Homo sapiens: one gene and its partners. The protein of the gene in region 1 interacts with the protein of each later gene in a biochemical or structural test. Each region holds a gene or a part of one and is shown in the gene's direction. Other genes may lie near its edges.

Region 1 (4,182 bases):
ACCAGCCCCCAACACACGCAGGCACCCTGAGAGCTGTTCAGCAGGTGTTCACAGAGCACCCCCTTTGTGCCAGGCCCCTTGTGAGCCCTGGTATCCCCGAGAACTCTGGGGCACTGTGCAGAGCTGATCAGGGACTCACTGTGAGAGATTCTTCTCCCATAGTGACGCTGCCATTTGGCTTGATCTGATCACACCCTCCCTATGCTTACCGGTTCCCCACCAAACCTGCACACAAGTCCAAGCCCACTGGCCTGCCCAACAGGACATTGATGATCCATCCTGGCCCTCCTCTTCCACCAGCAGTGAAGTGACAATGGGTTAGAGGGTAGGGGGAGAGAGAGAGGAAAGAAAGGTTTGGCCAAAGATAGACAGGGGATGTCAGCCAAGGGGGTGACCCTGAGCCAGTGTTTCTGGCCTCCTGGGGTGCTGAGCAGAGATGTCCTTTGTGTCCAGCTGGACTCTGCCCCCAAGGGCAGGCCTCAGGGCACTGAGGCGCCTTCCACAATCTGCAGAGTGCTCTCGAGTGCTTGGCACTGTCTAAGCGCTGTACACATATGCACATTCACACATGTACCCATTCAGTCGTCACGGGAGCCCCATGAGGGAGGCACTGCAGATCACAACCCCCAATCCACATGTGCCAAGCCCAAGCTCTGAAAACCTAACATTGCTTCCAAGTTTAATGCAGAATTCATTTATTGGCAAACCTGACCCAAACTGATGCGAGGCTATTTATGCCTTATTTAGCCTCTTGGTGAGAATATTTGTGTTTTCCTACAGAGGTATTAATGGCTTTAATAATAAGGTACAGATCTTGCAGAGGTCATTACAGAATATATGGAACATGTACCATTTTGCCTATTTTATTTTATTTTATTTTATTTTGAGACAGAGTCTCGCTCTGTTGCCCAGGCTGGAGTGCAGTGGGATGATCTCAGCTCACTGCAGCCTCTGCCTCCCAGGTTCAGGTGATTCTCTTGCTTCAGTCTCCCGAGTAGCTGGAACTACAGGGGCCCGCCACCATGCCCAGCTATTTTTGTATTTATAGTAGAGTTGATGTTTCACCATGTTGGCCAGGCTGGTCTTGAACTCTTGGCCTCAAGTGATCCGCCCACCTCAGCCTCCCAAAGTGTTGGGATTATGTGCATGACCCACCACGCCCGGCCCATTTTGCCTCTCTATACTTCGCAATTTCTAAATTCCAAAGAATACCTGGTTCTAGGAGTTTCGGACCTAGGTTATTATTCTTACTAGCAGATGAAGAAACAGAAATGGTCTCTAACCTGCCTAAAGTCACCAGCTGGGTCTGTTATACTGGCCTGGGATGGGGGAAGGGTGGAGCGTGGTGGAGGTGGGCAGTGCCACCCTCTAGGTGCCCGCCTTTCCATTTTTCTCAGGATGATTTTAGATGAACAGATGGTTGGATCTGGGCTTGGGCTGGTGTTTGGGGCACAGAGGTTTGGGAGACCAGGTTGGGAGAGGCCGCTTACTCTCTGTCCTTTCCCCAGATGGTGTGGTCCTGGTGGATCCTGAGTATCTCAAAGAGCGGAGAGGTAGGCTGTGGCCCCCATCCCCAGCCTGTCAAGGGCCGCCTCCTCTTCCCCCCGGACCTCTAGCATAGGAACTCCCTGCCCATCCCCACTGGTTCCCCTGAAAGCCCCAACAAATACCTCTACAGATGCCGTTGCCTCCTCCAGCCTGGGACGGCCCTGCCCCAAGCTTACTTTGGGAGAAGGTTTCCCCATGCCCTGAGCACTTTCACATCAATATGTCATGACTGTGGCAAGGCTGGGGATGCCAGCAGGGTAGGAGTAGGTTCTTCTTTAACAGAACAGAACATTGATACCGGGGCAGTATCAATGCGCAGGAAGACAAGAGTGCAGACTGAGCTGTGACAAGACGCTTGCCGTCCAGATACCACCCAGCACTTGCCCTGCCCCCACAACTCCCTGCTCCTTCCCCAGGTCCCCTACCCCCACCCCAGGCCTGCCAGACTACTCCAGCCCCCGCCAAGCCTGTCAGACCGTTTCCATACCCCTCCACATATGCCCTGGGGAGAGGTGGGAGGGGGAAGGACAGAGCTGGCTCAGCAGGCAGCCCCCTCCTCCTCCCAGGGGCCAGGCCATGGCATCCTTCCGGTACTCACTACCAGCCCTCCTGGTGGAGACAGTGCAGCCATCCCCACAGAGCTTGGGACAGGCTTGGGGCCTCCAGTGGGGCCCGTCCCAGGGCTGCTGCCGGCACTCTGGGGGGCTCGCTTGCTGCTCTCCCAGGCCCCTCCTCAGTGCTCCTCGCTCCCCACAGTCTATGTGACGCTGACCTGCGCCTTCCGCTATGGCCGGGAGGACCTGGATGTCCTGGGCCTGACCTTTCGCAAGGACCTGTTTGTGGCCAACGTACAGTCGTTCCCACCGGCCCCCGAGGACAAGAAGCCCCTGACGCGGCTGCAGGAACGCCTCATCAAGAAGCTGGGCGAGCACGCTTACCCTTTCACCTTTGAGGTCAGGAACTGCCATCCCTGGGGCCCCATTCCAGAAATGCCACCTCTAGGAAGCCCTCTGGGGTGGGCATAAGAGGGCGGTGAGGGTCAGCTGCTCCCTGCCACCCAGTTTCCCAGTGTATGCTGGGACCTGGGGCACTGTCACCTGTGTTACCTGGTAAGTGTCTCTTCTCCAGCCCCTGCTGGGGTTTGTCACCTGTACCTTTGGGCTACTCCTCAGACCCTTCTGAGGCCAGGTCATTGGTGGGAGAAAGGGGGTGCTAAGGGGCTTCAGAGAAAGAAAGAGCCCTTTCTGGACCCTGCATCACTGCAAGGGGTTTCCCGCTCAGATCAGCTCCCCACTTGCCCGGCAGCAACCCAGCTCGCAAGAGAGGGATGGCAAGTAGGTGATCTGTCTGCCCCACCACCTTTCAAATCAGAGACTTTAAGATGCTGGATTTCAAAATCTCAAGTTTCTTAGGCTCTCTGATTCTGAGATTCAGTGTGGTCTCTCCCTTTCTTGGAGGCTGAGAGAGTGGAGAGGGTCATGGAGTCACCTTTTCTACGTAGACATGTTAGCTCCCTATGGCTGCTGAAACAGATTGCCACAAACTCGGCAGCAATTAAAACAACACAGATGTATGAGCTTACAGCTCTGGAGGTCAGAAGTCCCAAAACAGGTCTCAGTGGGCTACCATGGAGGCGTGGCAGGGCTGGCTCCTCTGGAGGCCCTCGGGGAGCGTCCACCTTTTCCAGCATTGCTTTCCTTGGCTCACAGTGCCTTCCTCCATTGTCAAAGCCAGCAGTGGCCGTTGAGTCTTTTGTACATCCCATCACTGTGGCTCAGACATTTCTGCCCCCTGCTTCCACTTCTAAGGACTCTTGTGATTATACTAGGCCCACCAAAATCATCCAGGATACGGTCCCCATCTCAAGGCCTTAATTGGATCTGCAAAGTCACTTTTGTCATTAAGGTCCCAGGTTTGGGCGATTAGGGTGTGGACATCTTTGGGGAACATTATTCTGCCAACCACAGTAGACATCATAGAAAGATCTATTTAAACCATTGCTGCGAGGACTGGGCTGGGCCAAACCCTTTAGATAAAGAAAGCTCTTTATCTAAAGAGTTTTAGATGGGGCATGGCTTGGCATGGTCTGATGGGATAGACATGGCCTGTCCCCTGGGGCCCTTGGTCTGATGGGTGTATGGGAGTGTCTGGGCTGCAATACATGAGACAGGACAGTGGTGGATGTGACAGGTGGCTCGTTCTGTCCTCTTCTTGACAGATCCCTCCAAACCTTCCATGTTCTGTGACACTGCAGCCGGGGCCCGAAGACACGGGGAAGGTAGGTCACCCCAAGGGGACCATCTCTCTGGCTCCAGGAGTCTCATGTCCCCAGGTCCCTGGCTTTCTCCCTGGGAGGTGCTGGACACACAGGACCACTCTCCCTGTTGAACAGTCTTTGTGTCTAGGCTAAGCTGGTCCCACCTTGGACAACCAGTCTCTCTTCAGACAGGGCAGCAGGTACGGGGTCAGCCTCACTCTCCCATTCAGTGATGGGTCTGGAGGCTCTCCTGGGTGGCGTTGGCTGCAACAGGACCAAAGTGTTCTGAGGACCTACACCTGGCCTCATGTAACCCCTGGCAACCTGGAATCAAAGTGCGATCATCCCCATTTCACAGATGGGGAAACTGAGGGTTG
Region 2 (4,182 bases), on another chromosome or scaffold:
TCCCTGGCCCCCACCTACCAATGCCACGAGTGTCCTCCAGGCATTGAAACAACCAAATAACCTACATATTTCCAGACTCCCTCTGAAGGTGATGTCACCTCTGGTTGAGAAAAACTAGTTAGAGCCAAAGTGTTAGCCATCAGCACTTAAGCATGTCTATTTGGTGTAATCTTTCCCCACCCATCCCACATGGAAAGGCAGGTTGGCCTGGATGGCGTTAAGTAGTTTGAAATTATTGTATGGGGAACCAGTGAAGGTTTTTGAGATGGAAAGGGACAAGTAAAAGGAAACTCTGCTTTACACAGTGGGTGGTAAATTTATGGAATTTATTATCCTAAGAAGTGATAGGGAGGATATGAAAAGACAGATAAGTCAAAATTGAGCTCCTTGAAGTCAGTAACCATTCTTGGCCCCCAAAACTGTCCTGAGAGTATTATAGTAGGTATACTATACATACTATAAAAATATTAATTAACGAAACGTTAATTATAAAACATTAATGAAAAAGATAATTAAAAATTTATGAAAGGAAATTAAAAGAGTGCCTCTCTAGGTTGTTTTTTTTTCCTGACACCAAATACATGATGCCTTTTCTGATACCATGTGGGTGTCCAGTAGTTCAGTTCAATTCTGACACTATCTGTAGTTAGCAAAGACCCCACAGATTAAGGACCCAGTTCCACAAGATTGCCTCCATTTCTGATGCTAGTGGCAAGTCCCAGTACTTCTGACCATTTATAGCCAGTATTTATAACTGGCTATAAATTTAGGGGTTTCCACCACCCCCTCCTAAGTTGCGATAATTGCTAGAATGCATCACAGAACTCAGTTTCTGTGAGTTACATTTACCAGTTTGTTGTAAAGGATATGGCTCTGGAATAGCCACATGGAAGTATTATGAAGGGTAAGGTGTGTGGGAAGAGGCACAGAGCTCCCATACCCTCTCCAGGCCTGGCACCCTCCCAGCACCTCCCTGTGTTCTTCAACCAAGAATCTCCCTGAACCCTGTCGTTTAGGGGTTTTTATGGAGGTTTCATTATGTAGAGATGATTGATTAATTAAATCTTTGGCCACTGGTGATTGAACTTGATCTTCAGCCCCCTACTCCTCCCTAAAGATCTGGGATGGGGCTGAAATTTCTCACCCTGTAATCAAGGCTTGGTTTTTCTGGTGACCAGTCCTGATCCTGAAGCTATCCAGGTACTGACCAGAGTTCCCTCATGAGTACTAACTCCGGTATGGTTGGAAGGGGTTTGTTATGAAAAACATAAGATGCTCCTCTCACCCCTGTTGCTCAGGAAATTCCAAGGGTGATAGGATCTCTGTGCCAGGAACAGGGGTCAAATATCAAATATATATTTTTTTATTATACCATAGCCTCAAGAATTCAAAGTGTTTATTCTTGAAAAATCAAAATAAAGAAAAAGGTATAAGTGCTATAATGTTATATAAGTGCTAAAATATTAATTATAGCATTATTTGTGAAAGCAAAGATATTGGAAGCAATCTAAATGTCAAATACTAGAGTGAGGTTTCTCCACCTTGGCACTACTGACATGTGGGCAGATAACTCTTTGTTGTGGGGTCCTTCCTGGGCATTGTGGGATATTTAGTAGCATCCCTGACCTCTGTCTGCTAGATGTCGGGAGTACATTTCTCCCCAGGTTGTGGCAACCAAAAAAAGTCTCCAGATGTTGGCAGATATCCCCTGGGGCCAAAATCACCCCTGGTTAAGAATCATGGCACTAGATAACTATTCAGGTAAATCTTAATGTGTCCACTTGATAAAAATATTATGGGATGATTGCTTTTAACATGGAAATGCTTATAAAAGTTAAAAAGCAAACATTATAATATCAGCTACATAAACTATGAATTATATAGCAAGGAAATAAAGAGAACATTAGAATTTTTTTTGAAGTTTAATTAGCATCATTGATGATTTTTTCTCCATTCTGTTAATATTGCTATATTATGATTACTTATTTTTTAAATTATAACAAAAATCTTAATTTGGGGTAATATTCTTATCCTTTTGAATGTGGTACAGGAAAACATTGCTTTTCTGCAGAATAGTCCTGGGTGCCACTGTGAGAGAGAGACTCCCGGGTTAGATTCTGGAATTCTGGAAATTTCAGCCCCATCCCAGACCTTTGGGGAGGAATTCTAGAAATTTCAGCCCCATCCCAGCTCTTTGGGGAGGAATCTAACCCAGGATTCCATACATAGAGTCAGGACTGTATGGTTTGTTTTTCTGTTCTTTCCCTCATATAGACTACTTTCTCTCAGATTTCTATCTATAGAAATAGATAATGATCATAGCACCCTTTCATACTGAAGCATTGAGAGAACGCATAGATAAGTGCATACTCAAGACTTCACTGGTTAAATGCCATGAATTACTCAGAAATGCTTGGTAAAAAGTGATGAGTCATCATCTCTTCAGTAAAATTAAATAACTCCTATTTAATCTGAGAGAGTTGTTATTGGATATTTATTGGTTGGGAATAAAATGAAACCCGAGGGCTGGTTGTGTAATGTCCTTGAGTTGAAAGTGTTGACTTAGATGAGCTCTAGGCAGAGGTGCAGAGAGTGTGCATGACTAGATGTATTTATACACAAGAAGTGAGCATTTCCACCTGGTTTCGATCAGAATGAGTGATTGGGATGCAGCAGTGTGTTGTGGGAATACTAGAGGGATCACCAGGGCTCCACTCATCTATTTATTCTTGTTCTGCTTTATGCTAGAGCACACCTGAATGCAGAGCGCTTGGCCTTGCCAGTGAGCTGTCAGAGCTAGGTTAATTCTCATTGGCTGCAAGCTAGGGTAGAGAATTACCATACAAAGGAGCACATGGTTAAGTTACTGGGCTAGAGTCAGCTGCAGAACTGGAATGATTTTTTTTTTTTTTTAAGGTGAAGAACTCAGAGTTAGGGATCCAGGTCAAATCGTAGGAAATAAATAGTAATTGATGTTGGGAAATTTTAATCAGATTGTAAAGCTGAAATTAGATACAGGGGTCAAGCCCAGTAAGTCTAACAGCCCAGACAGAAGGCTTTGGCCAGCCCACTTCTTCCCTGTAGGACGCAGGTGACTCCACTGTCAACTGGAGTTGCAGGGATATGGTTGAAGTCCCTTTGAGATTAAGGGCCTTGGGCCCAGAGTGCTTTCAGTTTAGCAAATATTAATGCAAACAGGCTATACTTTCTGGAGTAACTCTTTTTTTTTTTTTTTTTTTTGCCTTTTCCAGAGTTCCTGAAATAGAGTTAAAAAATGCCAAAGGTCTATCAAATGAAAGTGTCAATTTGTTAAAATCTCGCCTAGAAGAACTGGCCAAGAAACACTGTGGGGAGGTAAGATTTGTTAAACTGGAATTAAAAGAAGACAGTAAACTTCCCCATTACACCTCAAATCCAATTTTGAGTAGCATGTTTTGTGTTTTATTGGTTCTACAAAAGGGAACATTGTGATTTTTATTTATTTAATAGGATTAATGAAATTTGTAGTCTATAGATGGTACTATTGATGCTGAAGAATGTTTCTGAAAATTGCTAGGCATGGTGGCTCACACTTGTAATTCCAGCACTTGGGGAGGCTGAGGTGGGAGGATCACTTGAGCCCAGAAGTTTGAGACCAGCCTGAGCAAAATGGCGAGCACCTATCTCTAAAAAAATTAACTGGGTGTGGTGGTGTATGCCTATAGTGCAAGCTGCTCAGGAGGCTGAGGTGGGAGAATTGCGTGAGCCCAGGAGTTTGAGGTTACAGTGAGCTATGATCACACCCCTTCACTCCAGCCTGGGCCATAGAGCAAGACCCTCTCTCTTAAAAAAAAAGAAAAAAAGAAGAAGAATTTTTCTGAAAACAGTTGATGTGAACCCAGCCATACTTTTTGTATACTTTGGATCTTGCATCATGACTTGAACCTTTTTGTTGGAAAATGTGGGCAGACAAACAATTTCGGACCACCTCTCCCCTTTGCATATCAGAGGAATTTGTTGTTTTCTTTCTCAATAATTAGTGACACACTCTACTCCTTCAGTGTCTGTCATATACCTGAGCATTTACACTGAGTGCAGTACTCATTCTTTTTTAATCTTCTGAACATTAGGATCTACATATGAGTTCTCTCCTGGGTGGCACAACTCTCTGTGGAAGGCAAGACTAAGTGTCTTCTGGAGGCA
Region 3 (4,182 bases), on another chromosome or scaffold:
ATGAGAAAGTTTGTAAGTTTATTCTTCCCCTTTCTTTTTTTTTTTTTTTTTTTTTTTGAGATGGAGTTTCACTCTTGTTGCCCAGGCTGGAGTGCAATGGCGCAATCTCGGCTCACTGCAACCTCTGCCTCCCAGCTTCAAGCGATTCTCCTGCCTCAGCCTCCTGAGTAGCTGGGATTACAGGCATGCGCCACCACGCCTGGCTAATTTTGTATTTTTAGTAGAGACAGGGTTTCTCTGTGTTGTCCAGGCTGGTCTCAAACTCTTGACCTCAGGTGATCTGCCTGCCTAAGCCTCCCAAAGTGCTGGGATTACAGGCATGAACCACCCCGCCTGGCCTGTTCCCCTTTCTACAGTTTTAAATATCATCCTTTTATTTTGGAGGAACTAAAAAGATTGAAGATTCCCCACCCAGAGGGTCACCACACAAAAAGTACCTGATGGTGTAAGATGATCATATGAAGAATAAGACTCCCAAGTTCTTTAAGGTTTGTGTTAGTCTCCAGAACTGTCCATTTCCCTCATAGGTTTCACAGAGAATTTACCTTGACCAGATCCCACATTGTAAAAGGAAATGTGTGTGATGGATTCATAAAGCATATAACATGACGTGTTCAGACGTCACCTCAGAACTTCCATTGTTTTCTTTTAAACAAACTTTTTATTATTATTATTTTTTAAATAGTTGCAGAGTCTCACTATGTTGCGCAGGCTGGTCTAAAACCATCCTCCCGCCTTGGCCTCTGAAAGTGTTGGGTTGAGTCACTGTGCCAGGCCTAATTAAACTTTTTCTTTCTTTTTTTTTTTTTTTTTTTTTTTTGAGATGGAGTCTCACTGTGTTGCCCAGGCTGGAATGCAGTGACGCAATCTTGGTTCACTGCAACCTCTGCCTGCTGGGTTCAAGTGATTCTTCTGCCTCAGCCTCCCAAGTAGCTGGGATTACAGGCACCTGCCACCACACCCGGCTGATTTTTGTGTTTTTAGTAGAAATGGGGTTTCACCATATTGGCCAGGCTGGTCTTAAACTCCTGACCTCAAGTGATCCACCTGCCTTGGCCTCCCAAAGTGCTGGGATTACAGGCGTGAGCCACCACGCCCGGCCCTAAATAAACTTTTTAAACCTTAATTTTTTTTCCCTTTTTTTTTTTTTTTTTTTTTTTGAGACAGTCTTGTTCTGTCACCCAGGCTGGAGTGTGGTGGCACAGTCTTAGCTCCCTGCAGCTTCCACCTCCTGGGTTCATGCGATTCTCCCTCAGCTTTCTGAGTAGGGGTTACTACAGGCACATGCTATCATGTCTGGCTAATTTTTGTATTTTTAGTAAAGATGGGGTTTCCCCATGTTGGCCAGGCTGGTCTTGAACTCCTGACCTCAATTGATCTGCCTGCTTCAGCCTCTCAAAGTGCTAGGATTACAGGCCTGAGCCACCAAGCCCAGCCTAAACCTTAATATTTGATTTTCAGAATAATGAGAAACATTTCTTGTGGTGTTAACTTTGTGTGTGCGCTGTTTTCAACAGTGCTTCCTCTGTCCCTGTCCCTGTCCCTGCTGCGTAAGTTGGTAACGTTTTGTGAATCAGCCTAGGACAGGTACCACTGTTTTTAGAATTCTTTCTTTTTTTTTTTTTTTGTATTTTTAATAGAGATGGGGTTTCACCATGTTAGCTAGGATGGTCTCGATCTCCTGACCTCGTGATCTGCCCGCCTCAGCCTCCCAAAGTGCTGGGATTACAGGTGTGAGCCACCGCGCCCGGCTTTAGAATTCTTTCTGGAGGGAAATGCATTGTAATTTCCTGGCTACCTTTTAGTATTAAAAAACTTTTGGAACATAGCTCATTGATAATATGCTATAGAAAGAGAGTCTTAGAGTTTCTCTGTCCAATTAAAGACAATTTCAAAAACCAACAAAAAGGCTTTCTCAGTTCCAGTACTCTTTTGTATTCATTAGATAGGGACAGTTTGGTTCAGACTACACCTGTGTGGGATATATCTTTACTGGTTTGTTTATTTATTTAATTTATTTATTTTTATTTATTTATTTTTGAGACGGAGTCTTGCTCTGTTGCCCAGGCTAGAGTGCAGTGGCGCAATCTCGGCTCACTGCCAGCTCTGCCTCCTGGGTTCACACCATCTCCTGCCTCAGCCTCCTGAGTAGCTGGGACTACAGGCACCCGCCACCACACCCGGCTAAATTTTTGTATTTTTAGTAGAGACGGCGTTTCACCATGTTAGCCAGGATGGTCTCGATCTCCTGACCTCGTGATCCATCCGCCTCCCAAAGTGCTGGGATTACAGGCGTGAGCCACCGCGCCCGGCCTTATTTTTTTTTTTTTGTGAGACAGAGTTTCACTCTTGTTGCCCAGGCTAGAGTGCAATGGGGCGATCTCGGCTCACCGCAACCTCCGCCTCCCAGATTCAAGCAATTCTCCTGCCTCAGCCTCCCAAGTAGCTGGGATTACAGGCATGCGTCACCACGCCTGGCTAATTTTGTATTTTTACTGGAGACAGGGTTTCTCCATGTTGGTCAGGCTGGTCTCGAACTCCCGACCTCAGGTGATCCCCCTGCCTAGGCCTCCCAAAGTGCTGGGATTACAGGTGTGAGCCACTGCACCTGGCCTATTGGTTTCTTTTTTTAAAAAAAAAAAAACTGTTTATGGCACTGTGGAGTCCCACCAGACAAACCATTAACTTAAGAAAATACTATTCTGCTCAGGAAAAAGAAAAAAATCGTAAAAATTAAATTTTGCATACATTTTCTTTATAACATGCATACTGTGTGTACTTTTTTTTTTTTTTTTTTTTGAGACAGAGTCTCGCTCTGTTGTCCAGCCTGGAGTCCAGTGGCACGATCTTGGCTTACTGCACCCTCTGCCTCCCGGGTTCAAGCGATTCTCGTGCCTCAGCCTCCTGAGTAGCTGGGACAACAGGCGTGTGCTACCACGCTCAGCTAATTGTTTTGTATTTTTAGTAGAGATGGGGTTTCATCATGTTGGCCAGGCTGGTCTCGAACTCCTGACCTCAAATGATCTGCCCGCCTCAGCCTCCCAAAGTGCCGGGATTACAGGTGTGAGCCATTGCGCCTGGCTTGTGTGTACTGTTGCCAGTATATATTTCTGTGTAATAATGTTCAGGGTTGTAAACAGAAAACCACATATAATGCACTTTAAGGGAGTATTTGCGGGATTTTCCAGAGAGTATGTTCATCCTGTTGCTCTGTAATGGTCATCATTTTGGGGCTAATGACTGCAGTTGCCGTGATTCAATTATGAACTTCCTTTTTAAGCATAATTTCTTTTTTTTGTTGTTGAGACAGAGTTTTACTCTGTTTCCCAGGCTGAAGTGCAGTGGCGTGATCTTAGCTCACTGCAACTTCTGCCTCCTGGGTTCAAGTGATTCTCCTGTCTCAGCTTCCCAAGTAGCTGGGATTACAGGCATGTGCCACCACACCCGGCTGATTTTTGTATTTTTAGTAGAGACGAGGTTTCACCATGTTGGCCAGGCTGATCTCAAACTCCTGACCTCAGGTGATTTGCCCACTTCAGCCTCCCAAAGTGCTGGGATTACAGGTATGAGCCACCGTGCCTGGCCTTTAAGCATAATTTCTATATAAACATTTAAAATGAAAGTTGCTGGAGTCTATCATGTTCATTATAGCAAATGCATGTCTTATTTTTGTTCCTTTCAAGAAGTTAGCTTCAATTAGGGAAGTTGTCAACAGAGAATTTTAAAATAATTTTTAGGTGAGTTTTCAAATGAAAAGGAAGAGACGTCTGCAAATGTCCTTTACTTATTCAGCTTCTGAAATACCTTACTTTTTATTTGCCTTTGATGTAATTTTTACATTGAGTTCCCAGATTGATTATCTAAAGCAGGAAAGGTAGAACTAATTCATTATCTAAAACAAGAAAGAACAAATTTCAAGTTAAAATAGCAGTGTTTTCAGCAAGAATTAAAAAAACGAGGTTTCACTTTCTCTGTAGAGGAAGAGTGGTGGGGTAAGACATTCAAGAAAGTTGTTCATTCGCATATTTCGAGAAGCATTGAGGTCCAATTGCATAAAAACGTATCTGCTGTCTCTAGCTTTGGCCTTTGAGGGAAGGATATAAGGGAATACTCAGGACAGGGGTAAAAAGAAAAAAGACCCTTAGCACCCGAGGCTTTCAAGATCACTCTTAATTAGTAACT
Region 4 (4,182 bases), on another chromosome or scaffold:
CGTGAGTCAGAAGTCAAAATGCAAGACAGTGGCCAGTTTCTCACCCTTTTTAAAGAAATACATTGGGTGAGGAGTATTCATTCTTAGAATCCATTGTCATGCTTTTTGGTGGGGGAGGTACCTCTTTTCTGCCCTTGCTTCTTTGTATTTTAGAGGTGGAATTTGGGGAACAGAGGATCAGAAGAAATTCAACACTTATCCTTTTTTGCTTTTGGTGCCTTCTTAGGTGACAAACGCTTTCTTTAAAAATTGCTATTCTTTTTTGCAGAGCAAGGTGATAAAATTGTAAATTTCTTTTATTAGAGATAGTTACAGTTTACATTTTCTTTTTCATATATGATTCAAATGATGTGAATCTTATAAAATCATTTGATACTGTGAAAGGATAGCAGTCTAAGTTCTTTAAGGTTTAGATTTAAAGAATTTCTGCTTTTTATTTTTATTTTTTTTCTGTTAGTGCAAAGCAGCTGGTCCGAGGAGAACCCAATGTTTCGTATATCTGTTCTCGGTACTATAGGGCACCAGAGTTGATCTTTGGAGCCACTGATTATACCTCTAGTATAGGTAAGTACAAATCTGAATATAATGCTCATAATTATTAATTGCTTCTTGATTTTGGTAATTTAGTACTACTAATCTGTACTTTTATTTCCATGGAAAGATGGATATATCCCATAATGTTTTTTTTCTTAAAGCTTGAGATGCAAACATGTATAGGCATACCTCATTTTATTATACTTTCCAGGCACTGCTTTTTTTTTTTTAACCTCTCAAAGGTTTGTGTCAACCCTGAGTCAAGCAAGTCTGCCCACACTAGTTTTATAAGAGCATGTGCTCACTTCATGTCTTTGTGTCATCATGTCTTTGTGTCACATTTTGGTAATTATTGCAACATTTCAAACATTCTCATTGTATCTGCTATGGTGATCTATGATCAGTGGTCTTTGATGTTACTATTGTAATTGTTTTGGTTTGCCACAAACCACAACAATATAAGACAGCAAACTTAATCGATCGGTGTTGTGTATGTTATGAATATTCCACCAGCTGGCCATTCCCCATCTCTCTTCCTATCCTCAGGCCTCCCTATTCCCTGAGAGACAACAATATTGAAATTAGGCCAATTAATAACTCTGCAGTTGCCTCTAAGTGTTCAAGTGAAAGGTACATTTTTCACTTTTAATCAAAAGCTAGAAATGATTAAGCTGAGCAAGGAAGGCATATCGAAATTGTGCCACACAGTTAGCCAAGTTGTGACCAGAAAGGAAAAGTTCTTAAAGGAAATTAAAGTGCTACTCCAATGAACAGATGAATGATAAGAAAGTGAAACAGCCTTATTGCTGTTACAGGGAAAGTTTTAGTGGTTTGGATAGATCAAACCAACCACAACATTCACTTGAGCCAAAGCCTAACCCAGCAAGGCCTGAACTCCCTTCAATTCTGTGAAGACAGAGAGGTGAGGAAGCTACACAAGAAAAATCTGAAGGTAGCAGAGGTTATTTCATGAGGATTAAGGGTAAAAAGCTGCACCATGCCATAAAAGTGCAAGGCAAGCAGCAAGTGCTGATGTAGAAGCTGCAGCAAGTTATCCAGAAGATCTAACTAAGATCATCGATGAAGGTGGCTACATTAAACATCAGAGTTTTAATGGAGACCAAATAGCCTTCTACTGAATTGGAAGAAGATACCGTTTAGGACTTTCATCTCTAGATTTTCTAGAGATGGAAGACTTCTTCTAGAGAGGAGAAGTGTCATTGCCTGGCTTCAAAGCTTCTAAGGACAGGTTGACTCTCTTGTGAGGGCCTAATGTAGCTGGTGACTTTTAAGTGCAAGCCACTGCTCATTTACCATTCCAGAAATCCTAGGGCCCTTAAGAATGATGCTGAATGTATTCTGCCTGTGCTGCATAAATGGAGCAACAATGAGTGGATGATAGCACATCTGTTTATAGCATGGTTCACTGAATATTTGAAGCCCACTGCTGAGACCTACTACTCCAGAGAAGAGTATTTCTTTCAAAATATTACTGCTTATGGACAGTGCAACTGGTCACCCAAAGGTTGAGAAATACATTTGTAAGGCTATAGCTGCCCTAGATAGTGATTAGTCTGATGGATCTGGGCAAAGTCAATTTTAAATCTTCTGGAAAGGATTCACCATTCTAGGTGTCACTAAGAACATTTGTGACTCAATCACATGAACAACATTTTGGAAGAAGTTGATTCCAAGCCTCATGGGTGACCTTGAGGCATTCTAGACTTCAGTGAAGGAAGTCTCTGCAGATGTTGTGGAACTAGCAAGAGAACTAGAATTAGAAGTGGAGCCTGAAGATGTGACTGAACTGCTGCAATCTCATGATGAAACATAAACAAGTTGCTTCTTTTATGGATGAGCAAAGAAAGTGGTTTCTTGAGGTGGAATCTACTAGTGGTTAAGACGCTGTGAATATTGTTGAAATGACAACAAAGGATTTAGAATATTACATAATTGTAGTTGATAAAGCAGCAGCAGGGGTTGAGAGGACTGACTCCCATTTTGAAAGTGGTTCTAATGTGGGTAAAATGCTATCAAAGAGCATCTCCTACTAGAGAAAAATCTTTCATGAAGGGAAGAGTCAGTTGATGTGGCAAACTTCATTGTCACTTTAAGAAATTACTCCAGCCACATCGTATAGCCTTCAGCAACTGCCACCCTGATCAGTCAGCAGCCATCGACATCAAGGCAAGACCCTCTGCCAGCAAAAAGATTACAACTCACTGAAGGCTTAGATGATCATTAGCATTTTTTTTTAGTAATAAAGTGTGTTTAAGTTAATGTATTACATTTATGTTTTTATACAATTCTATTATACAAGTAATAGACTACAGTATAGAGTGAACATACCTTTTATATGCACTGGGATACCAGAAAATTGGTGAGACTTGCTTTATTGTGTCTTATTGTTATGGTCTGGAACCAGTTCTGCAACATCTCTGACGTATGCCTGTATAGAATTTTTCAAATTCTACTTTTTAGAATTTAAGGTATACCTACTATTCTATTTTTCTTCCTTGGACTGTTAGAATCATAAAGCTAATAGCTTTTACCTTAAGAATTTAAATTAATTCTAAGTAACTTTTTTTTACTTTCTTATTTAAAATCCTCCTGAAATACTTCTGAGCATGATTATACTAGTTGGATAATTTATTAATTAATGTTATTTCATTAAGTTAATAATGAAAGTGATAGTATGGCCATATTGCTAACATTTCCTTCATGCCATCTCCATTATTTAATATAAAATCAGCTTAAATCACTAGTAGTTTTGCTAGATGCACTGATTCTGCAGAAGTATGCACCCAAGATGTTTAGTCATAGAAGGAACTGAATAGAGACCATTAGCTTTAATCATCATTGACCTTCTCAAGTCTTCACCCCAGATGTTTAGTGATAGGAGGAACTGAATAGAGACCATTAGCTTTAATCATCATTGACCTTCTCAAGTCTTCACCCCAGATGTTTAGTGATAGGAGGAACTGAATAGAGACCATTAGCTTTAATCATCATTGACCTTCTCAAGTCTTCACCCAAGATGTTTAGTGATAGAAGGAACTGAATAGAGACCATTAGCTTTAATCATCATTGACCTTCTCAAGTCGTCACCCAAGATGTTTAGTGATAGAAGGAACTGAATAGAGACCATTAGCTTTAATCATTATTGACCTTCTCTTTTACTACATCTTAGCCCACTAGCCAGGAGTGAACAGAGAGAGCATGATCAGCTGGACATGAATAGGAAGCTAACAAACAAGGAGCAACTTTAAGCTGGATGTGCAAGTGGAAACCAAAATTATTTTACTCTTACATATTGTTTCTGAAGAGAATTCCTTTAGTCCAGAAACAAACAAAAGCATGCAAATAATAAACCAAAAACATCCCCACAGTAACAGAAAACCAAAACAAACAAAAAACAGACCTGGCCTGGTGCAGTGGCTCACACCTGTAATCCCAGCACTTTGGGAGGCTGAGGTGGGCAGATCACTTGAACTCAGGAGTTCGAGACCAGCCTGGGCAACATGGTGAAAACCTGTCACTACCAAAAATTAGCCGGGCGTGGTGACATGCCCCTGTAGTCCCCGCTACTTGGGAGGATGAGGTGGGAGGATGGCTTGAGGCCAGGAGGCAGAGGTTGCAGTGAGCTGA
Region 5 (4,182 bases), on another chromosome or scaffold:
CTTCTCTGAAAGCCTTGGGAGACCATTTCAGAGGAAGTGAATATCGCTGGAGACTCTCTCGGTCTGGCTCTGCCCCCACCACCGGCCTCCCCAGGATCTCGGACCAGCCCTCAGGAGCTGTCAGAGGAACTAAGCAGAAGGCTTCAGATCACTCCAGACTCCAATGGGGAACAGTTCAGCTCTTTGATTGTAAGTAGTGGCCTTGTTTGAAAGAAAAGCTGAGCAATGTTTTATTGTTTTTTGTTGCTTAAGGAGAATCTCTTACGTAAATAGTGACCAAGGGTCTTCCAGCTCCCAGCTAACTCTGACATTTTCCAAAGTTCCTCCTTCCCTAGGAGAAGCAGGACTGTACTAAAATTAGCCCAAGCAGGTGAGAATCTTTCTTGATTTGGAAGGCAGCTTTGCTCACCCTTATACCACTAACACTTTCTTGGTTTATAAAGAACTCAAAGAAGTAAAACTCCATGATGTCTGTAATTATTAGCTTTAACCTTGTAGAATTCCTTTCCCAGCCAAAAGGCTCATGAAAATAGTACCTTTATCACAAAGGTAGTATTTCACAGTAACAATTAAAAGCCATCAGGCCTAATCAGTCCTCTTAAGTCATATTCTGCAGGATTTATCATTCTCATTTCGCTGATAAGGGCACAATGCTTAAGTGGCTCATCCAAGACAAGGTTTGAGTGGGAGATAGAAGACGTCTCCTAAGTCCCAGAGTATGAACCCTTGAGAAATGTTGTGAAATTGTGACACTGTCATCAAGGTAGCATTTTAACTTGGGCTCTCAACCATCAGAAACATACTTTCTAGAAGCTTCAGATGGGCCCAATGCCTGAGCCCAATGGAATCAGTCACAAAGACTTCCATGTTTGACAATACAAAACTGTGCAGAAATAACCCATAGAAAATCCCTGCTTGTGCATAGAATTAAGAGCAAATGAAGTCTCAGTGTTTCTCAAGAAACTGAACTTAAAAATGTACAATAGTAAATGATGATAGTCACTCCACTGAAAATGGCATCCTAAAAAAAAATAGTCATTACTATGACCATAACAAACATAAATGATAGCACTGCATACAATGTAAAAGCAAGTAAGTACTCACAAAATTGTTACTTTTTGGTTATGGTGTTTTTATTTTAAAAGACAGTATACGCCTCTATTACATGAGTTGCATTTATCATTCAGTTAATGTGATTTCACTTTGAAATTCTGTGACTTTTTCAAAAAGAGATGTGTCGCCAAGATGAAAATGTAGTACTAAATGGACAGGATAAAAGAAATTGCATATATATGGGATATTTGAACTGATAAAACTGTTGTTATAGAAACAACATAAACAATGAAGCCTTGTATTTAAAACCTATAAAAGCAAGGAGGTACCACAGAATCCATGGCAGTAACACACCTTTAGTAAACCAAGTAAACACTGTAATTTTTTTCAGCAATAATCATAAGTTAGCAATTCTAATTATTTAAATGAGGAGCTCCTGAATTTAATTATTCTAGATCTGTGAAATATCATTAAGACCCAAATACAATGTTGTATTATTTCACATCGTGTTCACTGTTAAATGAGAGTCAAATCGGATATTTGCTCATTGGGATTACCCTGTATTCAAGGGGAAGAACATGAGCTTTGGCTGGGCACGGTGGCTAATGCTTATAATCCCAGCACTTTGAGAGGCTGAAGCAGGCGGATCACCTGAGGTCAGGAGTTCAAGACCAGCCTGGCCAACATGGTGAAACCCCGTCTCTACTAAAAATGCAAAACTTAGCCGGGTGTGGTGGGGTGCACCTGTAGTTCCAGTTACTCAGGAGGCCAAGGCCCAAAAATTTCTTGAACCCAGGAGGCAGAGGTTGCAGTGAGCCACGATTGCGCCACTGCACTCCAGCCTGAGCAACAGAGTGACACTTTTATTAAAGACTGATTCTTTCACAGTAACCAATGTGGGAAGATGTGAATTGTCCCCCATCCCTACCACAGAGTCTTCTTGTACCATTTACTTATCACAAAATATTAAAAATGAGTAAATACTAGAAACTGATACTATGGATGAACTTGCCGATAAGGAGACTCTGGCTTCTGTGTGTGACCTGCTGCTAATCTTCATTCATATCAATTAGGCTTCATTTAACCACATAGACTAATACAAACAAGTTAGAGGAATATTAAGACACTACACAGTAGATCTTTTTTTTTAGCTTGATCTCACTATTTTTAATCATTCCTGTCTTTACTACTTGAAGTCCACTTAGAAGCTAAAATTGGCTGAGCATGGAGGCTCACACCTGTAATCCCAGTACTTTGGGAGGCCGAGGTGGGTGAATCATCTGAGGTCAGGAGGTCGAGACCAGCCTGACCAATATGGTGAAACCCCATCTCTACTAAAAATACAAAAAATTAGCCAAGTGTGGTGGGGGGGGCTTGTAGTCCCAGCTACTCAGGAGGCTGAGACAGGAGAATCACTGGAACCTGGGAGGCAGAGGTTGCAGTGAACTGAGATCATGCCACTGCACTCCAGCCTGAGCAATAGAACAAGACTCTATATTTAAAAAAAAAAAAAAAAAGCAGCTAAAATTATAAATACCAGATCTTTCAGAAGTAGGCCAAGATGATGTCTGAGCTCCTCTGAATATAGGATGCAACTGACTCTTTTTCAATTGTAGTAATCAATAAATGTTGGGTAGCCACATATCACTATTTCTTCCGTCTATTCACATCACATTAAAATTTACCCTGAGGGTGCATCTTAGAGCAAACTACAAGACTGCTAGCTTCTTTCTGTTTGTAAAGCAGCATTAGAGTGTTGCAGAGTCCTGTTGAGTCTCCTTTCTGAAAGTTTTGGTCTCCTCTTACTTTTGCCACTAATTCTAAGGACCAATCAAAATTCCAGTCTGCTTAACTGAAAATTAAAGTGAAAGATAACTTTTTCAAGGATGACTGTCCTTGCTCTGAAAAGATGTTTCATTTAATTACCTTCTAATATCGAAGAGCGGTGAATATGGTTGAGTGATATGTTTGTTAAACCAATGAAAGTTGCTTTTAAGAATATATTTCTTGATGCTTCCTGTCTTTTCCTCTCCTTCCAGCAAAGAGAACCCTCCTCAAGGTTGAGGTCATGCAGTGTCACCGACGCAGTTGCAGAACAGGGCCATCTACCACCGGTAACCCATGCTAATTTCCAGTCATCAGTTGACTTTTTGGGCTTTCATTTACAATCATCTGGGCTGCTGCAAAAAGAGTTTTTCCTGTGTAAATTTATTTACAATATAAATGAGATGTTTTTAAATTTCCTGGCCAATTGCCCTAGGAAAGTGGATTTCCAATACAGAGAATTGTTACTGCCACCCATCTCTAAAATGCTGGAACCTCCATTGCTTTAGTTTTTCACCCAAATTTATACCAATTTTGATTTGCTCACTTAAACCTCTTGGTACATTAGTTAGTAATTCCTTTTACCTTATTGAGTTACTATAGTTATGCTCCAGTGATCTGTACTTTGAAAACACATTGAGTCCCTTTAACCAGGAAGAACTCTTCTGGGCGACCGTCCACATGTTCCTTTCCCTTCCTAATGACCTGAAGTCTGAACTCTACAGAGCCTCTGTACCTTCTCTTTAAAGGCAGCTCTGCTCACCAGGAATTGGCTATAATTCTTTCCAACTCTCTCATCATTTTAATAGCTATCAGCAAATGTAGAGGTGTAGGGGATTTTGTAACATCTGATGTATGTAAAAAGAAATATTCAAGTTGGAAGGCAGACTAGAACTGCCCTGAGAGATGTTTGATGTACACATTAAAAATAAGAAATTTTACATAAATTTGTTTCTTCTTTTGGAGGTGAAAATATGTGGTTTTAATGTGTTCAATTTGATATTTTACCTTGACAGTTTTTGTCTGTTGCTACAAAACCTTGATCATTTTTAAGACTAATAATGTATTACGTATGAATTTGAAGGGGGAAAAGTGCATTTAAGGTTTTTGAAATCACAGTGTCTTCCCTCTCATGTATGTTTTTTCTTGACTTCAAAGGATATTTTGGCCTAGGTTTTAATTTTTTATGTTTGAGAAAAAATTAATGAGTATACTAGTCAAGGAAGCAGTCAAAATAATAGAGTCATTTGTGACTTACACTGGAGAGACTTAATAATAAGCTTGATAAGAGCGTCTTTTCTGGGA
Region 6 (4,831 bases), on another chromosome or scaffold:
CACACACACACACCCCAAATATTTCTTAAATAGTCACCTGTTATTTCCCAAGAACATCCCAACTTTTCCGGTAGGCAAGTGTCAAGTCACCTGGACAATATTCCTGAAAAAAAGTGAAGGTTCTACCTGGGGTTGGGGCTCATTTTGGAACATGAAGTTGGCACTCTGAGGAGCCTAACCTTCTGTTAGGCTTCCTTTGGGGCAGTTGGTTTGCAGTGATCCTTAATAAAATAGTTTGCAGTATTTTGTAGGAAGGATGGCTGTGTACTCATGTGCAGGGAAAATTAAACTGCTGCAAGAGTTTGGCAAAACCGCCACCACTTTACTATTAATATGTCTTTACTATTTTTATATGTGTTTTGTGGGTCAGCGTGTTCAATTTTAAATAGGAATACACTAGCCTTACAACGGAATTTCTTCTTGTGGAATAAAAACTGATAATAACCTTTCATCTTCAAGAATCTGATGACTGAGTTTTGTAGGAATGTACCCAACAGTTGGACCAGAGCCTGGCCAGTTCCCACCAATTGGAGTAAGCTATTTAATTGAGGGTTAAGAAGCTCGATAGTTTTTTCAATCTGTTATCAGAAAAATATTATCTAAAGACACTGATAGCAGCTGACTGGTAAAACTGAAAGTTGGCCTTAGTAAATGGAACTAGTAAAAAATAGATAAAAATATGTAAAACCTTTTATGTCCTGTCAAGGAAAAAAAAATAAGCAAACTTGATTTGTTTTAAAATTGTAAATATTCATTGCAAAACCTAAATTATACAAAATCTATTTCGATTTGAATCTCTTAACATATGAAAAGCCACATCTTAAGTGCATTATGCTCTGTAAGGCATGTTATTAGCCAGCTTTGCTGAAAAATGTATTCTTCTACAGCTCAGAAAGAGGAGTAAAATTGCTCTAGAAATTTTTGATCTCAGCCACTTTGCATCCAAAGAGGAACCCAACTCCCCACTCACAATCCCCCACACACATTTTAATTATAAGAGTTCAACATTTTCCACAGATATCATTAAGCCAAGCAAGGAAACTCCTCTCTGTAAAAACAACAAAAAAGTTGCAATGTAAATAGTTATTTTAGCTATTTTCTTTGTGATTAGAGGATAAGATTTTGTTATTTCTTTTGGTACTTAGTCCTTTAACTATCTGAAAATGGCTCACTTTGACCTGTTTCTTTGGTCAGCCAAACTGAAGTGAGGGGCCTCTGTTTATATATAGAATCTTGTATATGTAACTTTACTTATGTGGGACCAATGGCCAGTATATTCTAATGGACACAAATCTCCCAATCCTTATGTAGGATTATCTGTTCACCTTGCCATGTCCATCTTGCAATGAGACCTAACTTGCACCTGCCTGTTTTTCTGCATGATTGGACTCCAAAGACTATTACCAATGATGAGAATTGTCTTGTGTCAGTGTTTATAAAATGGACTTAAAGCACACACACATGCATACCCACATTCACATGCACCCTTACAGTTCTAGATCAACCCTGGAAGGCAAAACCATGTACGTCCAGTTTCTTTGCAAGGTCTGAGCAGTGAGAACTAAATTCAGTCAGTCTAATGGGTAAAATGCAACCTCAGTGATGCTTAATAAGGATTTGAAATCGTTCAAGTCATTTCTGTGTTCTTTCTCACACCCTTTCCTTTCTATTTTGTCTTCTTTTATTTTCAAAATGTCTGTGGAACAAGAGGATGAATCGGGGGAGAACTTCTGCTTCTTTTGACTCTTTTTAGGTAATATGGAGTCAATATATTATGATTTCTGTTTCTTATGGATTATTAAAATCAGAGGAAATCTGCTTCTCTCAACATAAAACCAAATCCAAACCCAGACATTGTTGGAGTTTGCCTGTTGACAATGGTTATGATGCTGCTCGTTGTCTTGAGTTGCATGTAACGACAGTAGCTCTGAAGGGTGTCATGATTTCATTTTGGCAACTGGTAAAAGAAACTTGTAGTGTGGTCTGATTGTGCCAGGGAATAAATAAGAAATAAGGAATGACCTACTTTCTCACCTTGGGTCAAGAGTGTGTGATATGAATGTGACCATGTAGAAATCTGTGTTTTCATTTGACACTGGTTTCTTCTAAAACTGACCTTCATTTCTGTCTGTAGATACTAGTTGTATATCTGCAATTCAGTAATTTCTTTTTAAGGTATAAAATCAATGAAGAAAAAAAAGATCATCTTTTGGGGGGGCATTAGGTAAGTAGAGCAGGGTTAAATTTCCCAGATTAATTATCAGATTTCTATTCATTTTAACTATTTTCCAAGAGAAAAGGTAAAAGCCTTTGTTTAGCTACATGATATCCAACTTTACTATCTCAAACTCCTTGGAGAATTAAAAATATATATGATTTTGTGGCTGGATGAAGAGGTCACTGCACTTGCATTAGTTTACTTTGCAGTGTTTGAACAGTTGAGGAGTGGCTCTTCTATTTCTGTAAATAATGTTTTATTTAACCAATTAACTATTAGAAAGCCTGGAAGATAAACATACACATTATTTTGAGTTATCACATTTATCGTTTTACCTAGTTCCTGTTGGAATATAGAAAGCAACAGCTTTTTGTTATCTCTGGAACAGCTTCTATCCTAGTTTAAATCACAGATCCTTACTCTCTTTAAAAAAGGTCAAGCATAGGTACCTAAAAATACCCACAATAATAAGAAGGGAAATTGCATTCCACAAGATGATTGCTCTTAAAGAGTCAGAAGGAGTTATTGGTGCATTCCTGATACCATAAATGGTTACCAAACATTTGGTAATTTTGACCAAGTTCACAGTAAGGAGAAAAAAGGGTGTTGGACTTGCTTTTCTTGAAGATTACTTATGGAGCAACCAACCTAGAAGGATGAATCTACTTGCCAATAACAACACTGGATCACAGCCAAGGCAGAGGTTTTTGACATTCCCAATTCATCATGGTGGTGTTTTGTATTTGTAACATGTCTTTTCTCCACAGATGTTGAAAGGCATGCTTGGATGACACATGCTAATAGTGAAACACGCTGAAAGTCCTGCCATCACAGATCACTTTATGTTGGGAGCCACTCTATGTGGCAAGTCATCTGTCCCAGTTCCAGACTAAATTTCAACTGTTCAACCATTTACATCATTGTAGTCTGTTTAAGGCACTAAAAATGTGCTGTAGAAATTTATATTTCTCAGACACATGAAATGTGGTGACACATCCAGCAACAAGTCAAACACTCCTTTGAAATTTTCTACCTTATGTCAAATATTTCTTACTTTTAAAGACATTCCTATCCTGGTGTAAAATCCAACATAAAATAATTTGAGGGAATTTAAGGAATTCAAATTTCACTCCGTGGGGTACGTGGCTTTATTTCTTAATCACTGAACTTCTAGTAATGTTCTTCACCTGATCTTGTCTGCGATGTTTAACCAACAGTCCAGATCATTTGCAACTCAAAAGCAGGTACAAAATGTTATCCATCTTAAAAACCCCTCACATATTCCCTAGAAGACTGTCCCACACATAATTCGCCTTCCATTAACACTTGTGAACCCATCCTGGTGAAAATATTGCCTATGAACAATTATACCAAAAAATCAATTTTTATAATGCAAATAATATTTTACACAGACCAAGAGAATTCATAATATTAAAGTATTTCTTTTATAAAAGGAAGGTTTTCAGAAAGCAATGGCCTATTCCTTCATGTTAATACATTGCGAACTTGGATTTGGTGTAAATCAAGCCCTGAGAATATTGCTCTGAATTTCTAGCTTAATTTCTGAGCAACATTCTAAAGCAGTTCATTAATTTACTCCAAAAACATTTCTTGGACACTTCGGTGTAGGAGATATATATTGCATGGTCCTTAACCTAAAAAATTCAGAGTTAATAAATCTTTGTTTAAAAAAACTAAAGCAAATATTTTTATTTCATTTATTTGCTATCTTTTTACAAAATGTATTTAAATTAGTGGTGTGACTTGCACGAGTCCATTTTTATTATTTGCTTAAAGCGATGAAACAAGGAGTCTGCTTCTTTCAATGTTCTTATTTTGTCTAATTATATAAGTATACTTCATGAATCAGCATGAGAATTTTGAATATTTTCCATTACAAGAGATGAAACCACTTTTAAAAATTATTTAAAATTTAAAATTCATTTTAAAAATGCATGGATGTTCTTTTCCGCATTGCAGAAAGTTTGCTTTGATGTATGGTTCCTCTGAGAGCTATTGGACCTAGATGCTGACTGAGCATGGGGCTTATACTTTTGGCATCACAATCTCCAAATTAGCAAATGATATCACAATGGGTACTGAAGCTTCTTTGCAGTGACATTCTTACATGAAGCCAAATCTTCGGAGTTTGTTCAGTCTATGGGTGACTGTTGGAACCCTAAAATAACTTAAAGTAGAATTTGGTCATTTATTGTTTTTTTTTATTAAAAGGTCCAACTGAGAACATCCCTGAACATCTGAACCAGAAATTTGACATAGAGCTCTAAATATTCACTCATTCATTCATGCAACAAATATTTATTTATCAAGCACGTCAACCATCCAAGGACTGTTCTAGGTACACATAGTTGATGTGATGAAGTCAGCAAATCTGCCTTCACATGGTCTGCATTCTAGTGGAGAAGTCAGATAGAGGTAAGTACGAAGACCACAAAGCAGGTTAAAAAGTAAGGTGGGAAAGGGATGCTATTTTAGACAAGGTGGTCAGGGCAAGCCTCTCAGAAGAGGGGATAAGTGCTCAGAGACCTGACTGAAGTGAGAGTGAGCTATTGACACGGAGAAGGGCATTTCAGACTCTGAAGAGAAAGCAGG
Region 7 (4,182 bases), on another chromosome or scaffold:
GCTGTAGGCTTGTTTGACCTTCTGACTCTCCATTTGAAATGCTAAGTCCCCTTTTTGTGATTGTCGTTTCCTAAGTGAAATACAAATGTAATTGGAATTTGAATCCAAGATCCAGATTATAGCCTTTTATCAGGTTGATGAAATACCCTGCTGTTAACCTTCTCCATTGCACATTATTAGCATTTAATAAATATTGGCTAACAGTGCTGGATTTATGGAGGGCTCGTTGAAATATTCACTAATATTTGAATGGTGATCTTTTAAAAAATGCTTCCAAAAGGATTTATGGATTTCTAGCCATTTTTTAGATTTACCCCCTTCTGTTTCCTTATCAGTTCATTAGGAATTGTGACTATTTTGTTTAGAGTCCTTTCCTAATGATTATGTAGAGGATGTAAAGATGAAGAGTGGGATTTGAGTTGGGCCTTTAAGAGTGGGTGTGATTTTGATATGCAGATAATAGGAACAAGTGACAGCTTGAGCTGTGGAATCTAATCTTGGAAATGTACTTAGGTGGCAAACTGTAGAGGACTCCAAAGGCAAAACTAAGTTTGACTGTATATTTGTTCAGTGGAGGAAGCATCTTATTTATTTATTTATTTGTTTATTTTTTTTTTTGAGGTGGAGTCTCACTCTTGTTGCCTAGGCTGTAGTGCAGTGGCATGACCTCGGCTCACTGCAACCTCTGCCTCCTAGGTTCAAGCGATTCTCCTGCCTCAGCCTCCTGAGTAGCTGGGACTACAGGCGCGTGCCACCATGCTCAGCTAATTTTTTTTTTGTATTTTTGTAGAGACAGCGTTTTGCCATGTTGGCCAAGATGGTCTCAAACTCCTGACCTCAGGTGGTCCCCCTGACTTCAGCCTCCCAAAGTGCTGTGATTACAGGCTTTAGTCACCGTGCCCGGCCTTTTTTTGAAAGAGGCAGTCATACATGGTCAATTTTGAAATTTTTTGGGAAGACAAATCAACACTAGTGGGAATGAAGGAAGAAGAACCGGAGTGGAGGAATAAATTAGGAAAGCCTAACCACCTAGAGGTGCAGTAATAAAGTGGCAGCGGAAGGTAGCAGATGGAGGTGAGGAGTTTTGTATTGACAGAAATAGTAACAGGGACCCTTGTGGGAAGAGTGGTAAAAAGACTTTTAATCATGGCAAGTCTGAGTGGAATCAAAGGATTATGAGACCTTAAAGGGTAAGAGACCAAGAGAGGTGGGATTTGGATTTGGAGGGATTTCTGAGATAGAACAAGGCTTGCTGGTTGATTGGCTATGGGCGGTTGTTCATTCTGAGGCCTCTAGGTTGGGAGCCTGGGAGATGGTGGTGCCATTATCCAAGTAAAGGAATACTGTTAGAGCAGATTTGTCAGGGGGAAATAGTTCTGGTTTGAACTTAAGTTTGTAATGCCTGTAGGCCATTCAGGCTATATCCAGAAACCATCTTAAAATTTGTAAGAGGGGAGCAGGAGCTGGAGATGAAAATTTGTGTAAATGGTAGTTAAAATCTTGAGTGGATGAGCACAGATTCTTATCTGGGTCATTGGTTAGGTGAAATTGCAATCATGGCCAGGCGCGGTGGCTCACGCCTATAATCCCAGCACTTTGGGAGGCCCAGGTGGGCGGATCACGAGGTTAGGAGATCGAGACCATCCTGGCTAACATGGTGAAACCCTATCTCTACTAAAAATACAAAAAAAAAAAGTAGCCGGCCGTGGCGGTGTGCGCCTGTAGTCTCAGCTGCTGGGGAGGCTGAGGCAGGAGAATGGTGTGAACCCGGGAGGCAGAGCTTGCAGTGAGCCAAGATCGCGCCACTGTACTCCAGCCTGGGTGACAGAGCAAGACTGGGTCTCAAAAAAAAAAAAAAAAGAAATTGTAATTATATGTTTTCTATATTTATCTTTTTGGTTAAAAAATACATAGCATTTGATAGATTTTCAAATGAGTCCATTATCCTGGAAACATTAAGAACCACTGAAGTAGAACAGAGGACCAACCAGGTAACTCTGGCAAAGAAGAGGAAACTGATGACTGGTCAGATGTATAAGGGAACAGTGTAGACGGGGAGGAGGGAGAGGAGGAGAGATTGAAACACTCTTAGTATGCTTGGTCATCTTAGACTAAGATAGCAAGTGTCTATTTTGGTTTAATTGAGTTTGAAATGCTGTTTCTGAATGCGACAAGAGAGCTCATGGGGTCATCTTCATAGAGATATTAATTGAAGCCTTAAGAGTGGATAAGACATCTGAGAACTAAGCCAAAGGAGTGCCTGCCTTTACTGTGTCAATAAAGGTCAAGTTATGGAAGAGGACAGAGGAAATGTGGCCAGAGAGACCAAAGAACTGGGAGTGCACGTTATCAAAGGAGCCAAGGGAGATGGTACTCATTAAGGGATTGGTATTGAGTACTATAGGAGGGAAACAGAATGCAGCTGACAAGCCATTATATTTGTTGACTTTCAGCTCTTTTTTTTTTTGAGACAGAGTCTTGTTCTGTCGCCCAGGCTGGAGTGCAGTTGCACAATCTCGGCTCACTGCAACCTCCGCCTCCTGGGTTCAAGTGATTCTCTTGCCTCAGCCTCCCGAGTAGCTAGGATTACAGGTGTGTGCCACCACACCCGGCTAATTTTTTTATTTTTAGTAGAGACGGGGTATTGCCATGTTGGCCAGGCTGGTCTCAAACTCCTGACCTCAGGTGATCCCCCTGCTTCAGCCTCCCAAAGTGCTAGGATTACAGTGTGAACCACTGTGCCTGGCCTCTTTTTTTTTTTTTTTAAAGCGGGGATGTTCAACTTGGGAAAGCTGAATGAATAAAAGAAAAAAGAGGGGGATGGTTTCAACTAAAATTTCATTGTGATCACATTCCTGATGGTACAATGTCCTCCTGTCTTGTTAAGGTTATTGTGATTATAGCAGACTAGTAGAACTACCACTTTTTCAGCACTCTTGTTTTGTATTTTACATACATTAATGCTAAGCCATATAACTGTACAGCAAAAGTGGTAACTTCTGTTTGTTTTTTACCCCACAAGTGAAGAAACTTGAGGCACACAGAGGTTAGTTAACTTGCCCAATGACACACAGCTAGGAAGTGATGAAGCAACCCCAGTTTTTCTGGTTCCTAAGTAGTGCTCCACCAAAGATCAGAGTTGAGAAAATAGATTATTTCAGTAACAAGAAATATCTGTTGTCTGCTTTTGCTTGTATCACTTTTTAGCCTTTAAAACCTTTCATGTAGAGTTATTTACTCAGAAAATGTTTATTGAACTCTTCATCCAAATAATGGGATGGAATTGGGGAATAATACAGAGAAGATACCAGTGTTACCCAGGAGTTTGTGAAGTGCTGAGAGGAAGAGAAGAGCTGAGTGACTTGGGGCTGTCTTTCTTTGGCTTCCCAGACTTCTGAGCTAGGTGTTGATGTGTGAGTAGGAGTTTGCCTTGAGAAATGCCTTCTAGGCAAAGCGAAGTGTGCATGTAAAGGCACAGACCGTGAACACAGTGCATCAGGTCAGGAAAACCACAAATTACTTGGGAAGGCTGGAGTGTAGGGTGCCTTAGTAAGAAGGTGGGAGTTGAGACAGCTGGGGGTAGGCAGGGCCAAATCCTGAAGGGCATTATTTGGTAAGGACTTTGGACTTGATCTTGTGGGTGACGGAGTCATTAAAGGATGGCCCTGTTTCTGTCTGCCAGTTCCACTCCCACTTTATCTCTTATGCTTTCTGCCCATTTTGCCTACTTACTTACTTTTTTTTTGAGACAGAGTTTTGCTTGGAGGCTCACTGCAACCTTGCCTCCTGGGTTCAAGCAATTCTGCCTCAGCCTCCTGAGTGGCTGGGATTACAGGTGTGTGCTACCATGCCTGGCTAATTTTTGTATTTTTAGTAGAGACAGGATTTCGCCATGTTGTCCAGGCTGGTCTCAAACTCCTGACCTCAGGTGATCCACCTGCCTCGGCCTCCCAAAGTGCTGGGATTACAGGCGTGAGCCATTGCACCTGGCCGCATTGTGCCTACTTTATCTCGTGGTACTCAGTGGGGGTGATTTTACCTCCCTGCTACAGAGGCATTTGGAAATGTATAGGGGGGCGGCTTTTTGTTGTGTTGTCACGTTGATTAGGGGGTGTTATTGGCCGTCAGTAGGCATGTCAAGGGCAGACATGCTAAATGGTCTGGATTGCACGGTACACTCCC

What was found.
Region 2: the proteins of ARRB1 (region 1) and EIF2AK4 form a complex in vitro, tested with the Homo sapiens proteins (one study listed by BioGRID).
Region 3: the proteins of ARRB1 (region 1) and CYTH1 form a complex in vitro, tested with the Homo sapiens proteins (one study listed by BioGRID).
Region 4: of the proteins of ARRB1 (region 1) and GSK3B, one has a biochemical effect on the other in vitro, tested with the Homo sapiens proteins (one study listed by BioGRID).
Region 5: the proteins of ARRB1 (region 1) and NEDD4L form a complex in vitro, tested with the Homo sapiens proteins (one study listed by BioGRID).
Region 6: the proteins of ARRB1 (region 1) and MAPK10 interact in a test that uses a peptide from one of them, tested with the Homo sapiens proteins (one study listed by BioGRID and IntAct).
Region 7: of the proteins of ARRB1 (region 1) and MAPK1, one has a biochemical effect on the other in vitro, tested with the Homo sapiens proteins (one study listed by BioGRID).

The regions. Positions count from the first base shown.
Region 1 is NC_000011.10:75,281,606-75,285,787, reverse strand, and holds part of ARRB1 (beta-arrestin-1), read left to right. Parts: intron 1-1,508; coding exon 1,509-1,553; intron 1,554-2,304; coding exon 2,305-2,501; intron 2,502-3,766; coding exon 3,767-3,826; intron 3,827-4,182. UniProt on the Homo sapiens protein: Functions in regulating agonist-mediated G-protein coupled receptor (GPCR) signaling by mediating both receptor desensitization and resensitization processes.
Region 2 is NC_000015.10:39,940,132-39,944,313, forward strand, and holds part of EIF2AK4 (eIF-2-alpha kinase GCN2), read left to right. Parts: intron 1-3,251; coding exon 3,252-3,354; intron 3,355-4,182. UniProt on the Homo sapiens protein: Metabolic-stress sensing protein kinase that phosphorylates the alpha subunit of eukaryotic translation initiation factor 2 (EIF2S1/eIF-2-alpha) in response to low amino acid availability.
Region 3 is NC_000017.11:78,775,276-78,779,457, reverse strand, and holds part of CYTH1 (cytohesin-1), read left to right. Parts: intron 1-4,182. UniProt on the Homo sapiens protein: Promotes guanine-nucleotide exchange on ARF1, ARF5 and ARF6. Promotes the activation of ARF factors through replacement of GDP with GTP.
Region 4 is NC_000003.12:119,909,086-119,913,267, reverse strand, and holds part of GSK3B (glycogen synthase kinase-3 beta), read left to right. Parts: intron 1-457; coding exon 458-564; intron 565-4,182. UniProt on the Homo sapiens protein: Constitutively active protein kinase that acts as a negative regulator in the hormonal control of glucose homeostasis, Wnt signaling and regulation of transcription factors and microtubules, by phosphorylating and inactivating glycogen synthase (GYS1 or GYS2), EIF2B, CTNNB1/beta-catenin, APC, AXIN1, DPYSL2/CRMP2, JUN, NFATC1/NFATC, MAPT/TAU and MACF1.
Region 5 is NC_000018.10:58,330,726-58,334,907, forward strand, and holds part of NEDD4L (E3 ubiquitin-protein ligase NEDD4-like), read left to right. Parts: intron 1-12; coding exon 13-189; intron 190-3,092; coding exon 3,093-3,167; intron 3,168-4,182. UniProt on the Homo sapiens protein: E3 ubiquitin-protein ligase that mediates the polyubiquitination of lysine and cysteine residues on target proteins and is thereby implicated in the regulation of various signaling pathways including autophagy, innate immunity or DNA repair.
Region 6 is NC_000004.12:86,009,486-86,014,316, reverse strand, and holds the end of MAPK10 (mitogen-activated protein kinase 10), read left to right. Parts: 3' UTR 1-3,912; downstream 3,913-4,831. UniProt on the Homo sapiens protein: Serine/threonine-protein kinase involved in various processes such as neuronal proliferation, differentiation, migration and programmed cell death.
Region 7 is NC_000022.11:21,860,947-21,865,128, reverse strand, and holds part of MAPK1 (mitogen-activated protein kinase 1), read left to right. Parts: intron 1-4,182. UniProt on the Homo sapiens protein: Serine/threonine kinase which acts as an essential component of the MAP kinase signal transduction pathway. MAPK1/ERK2 and MAPK3/ERK1 are the 2 MAPKs which play an important role in the MAPK/ERK cascade.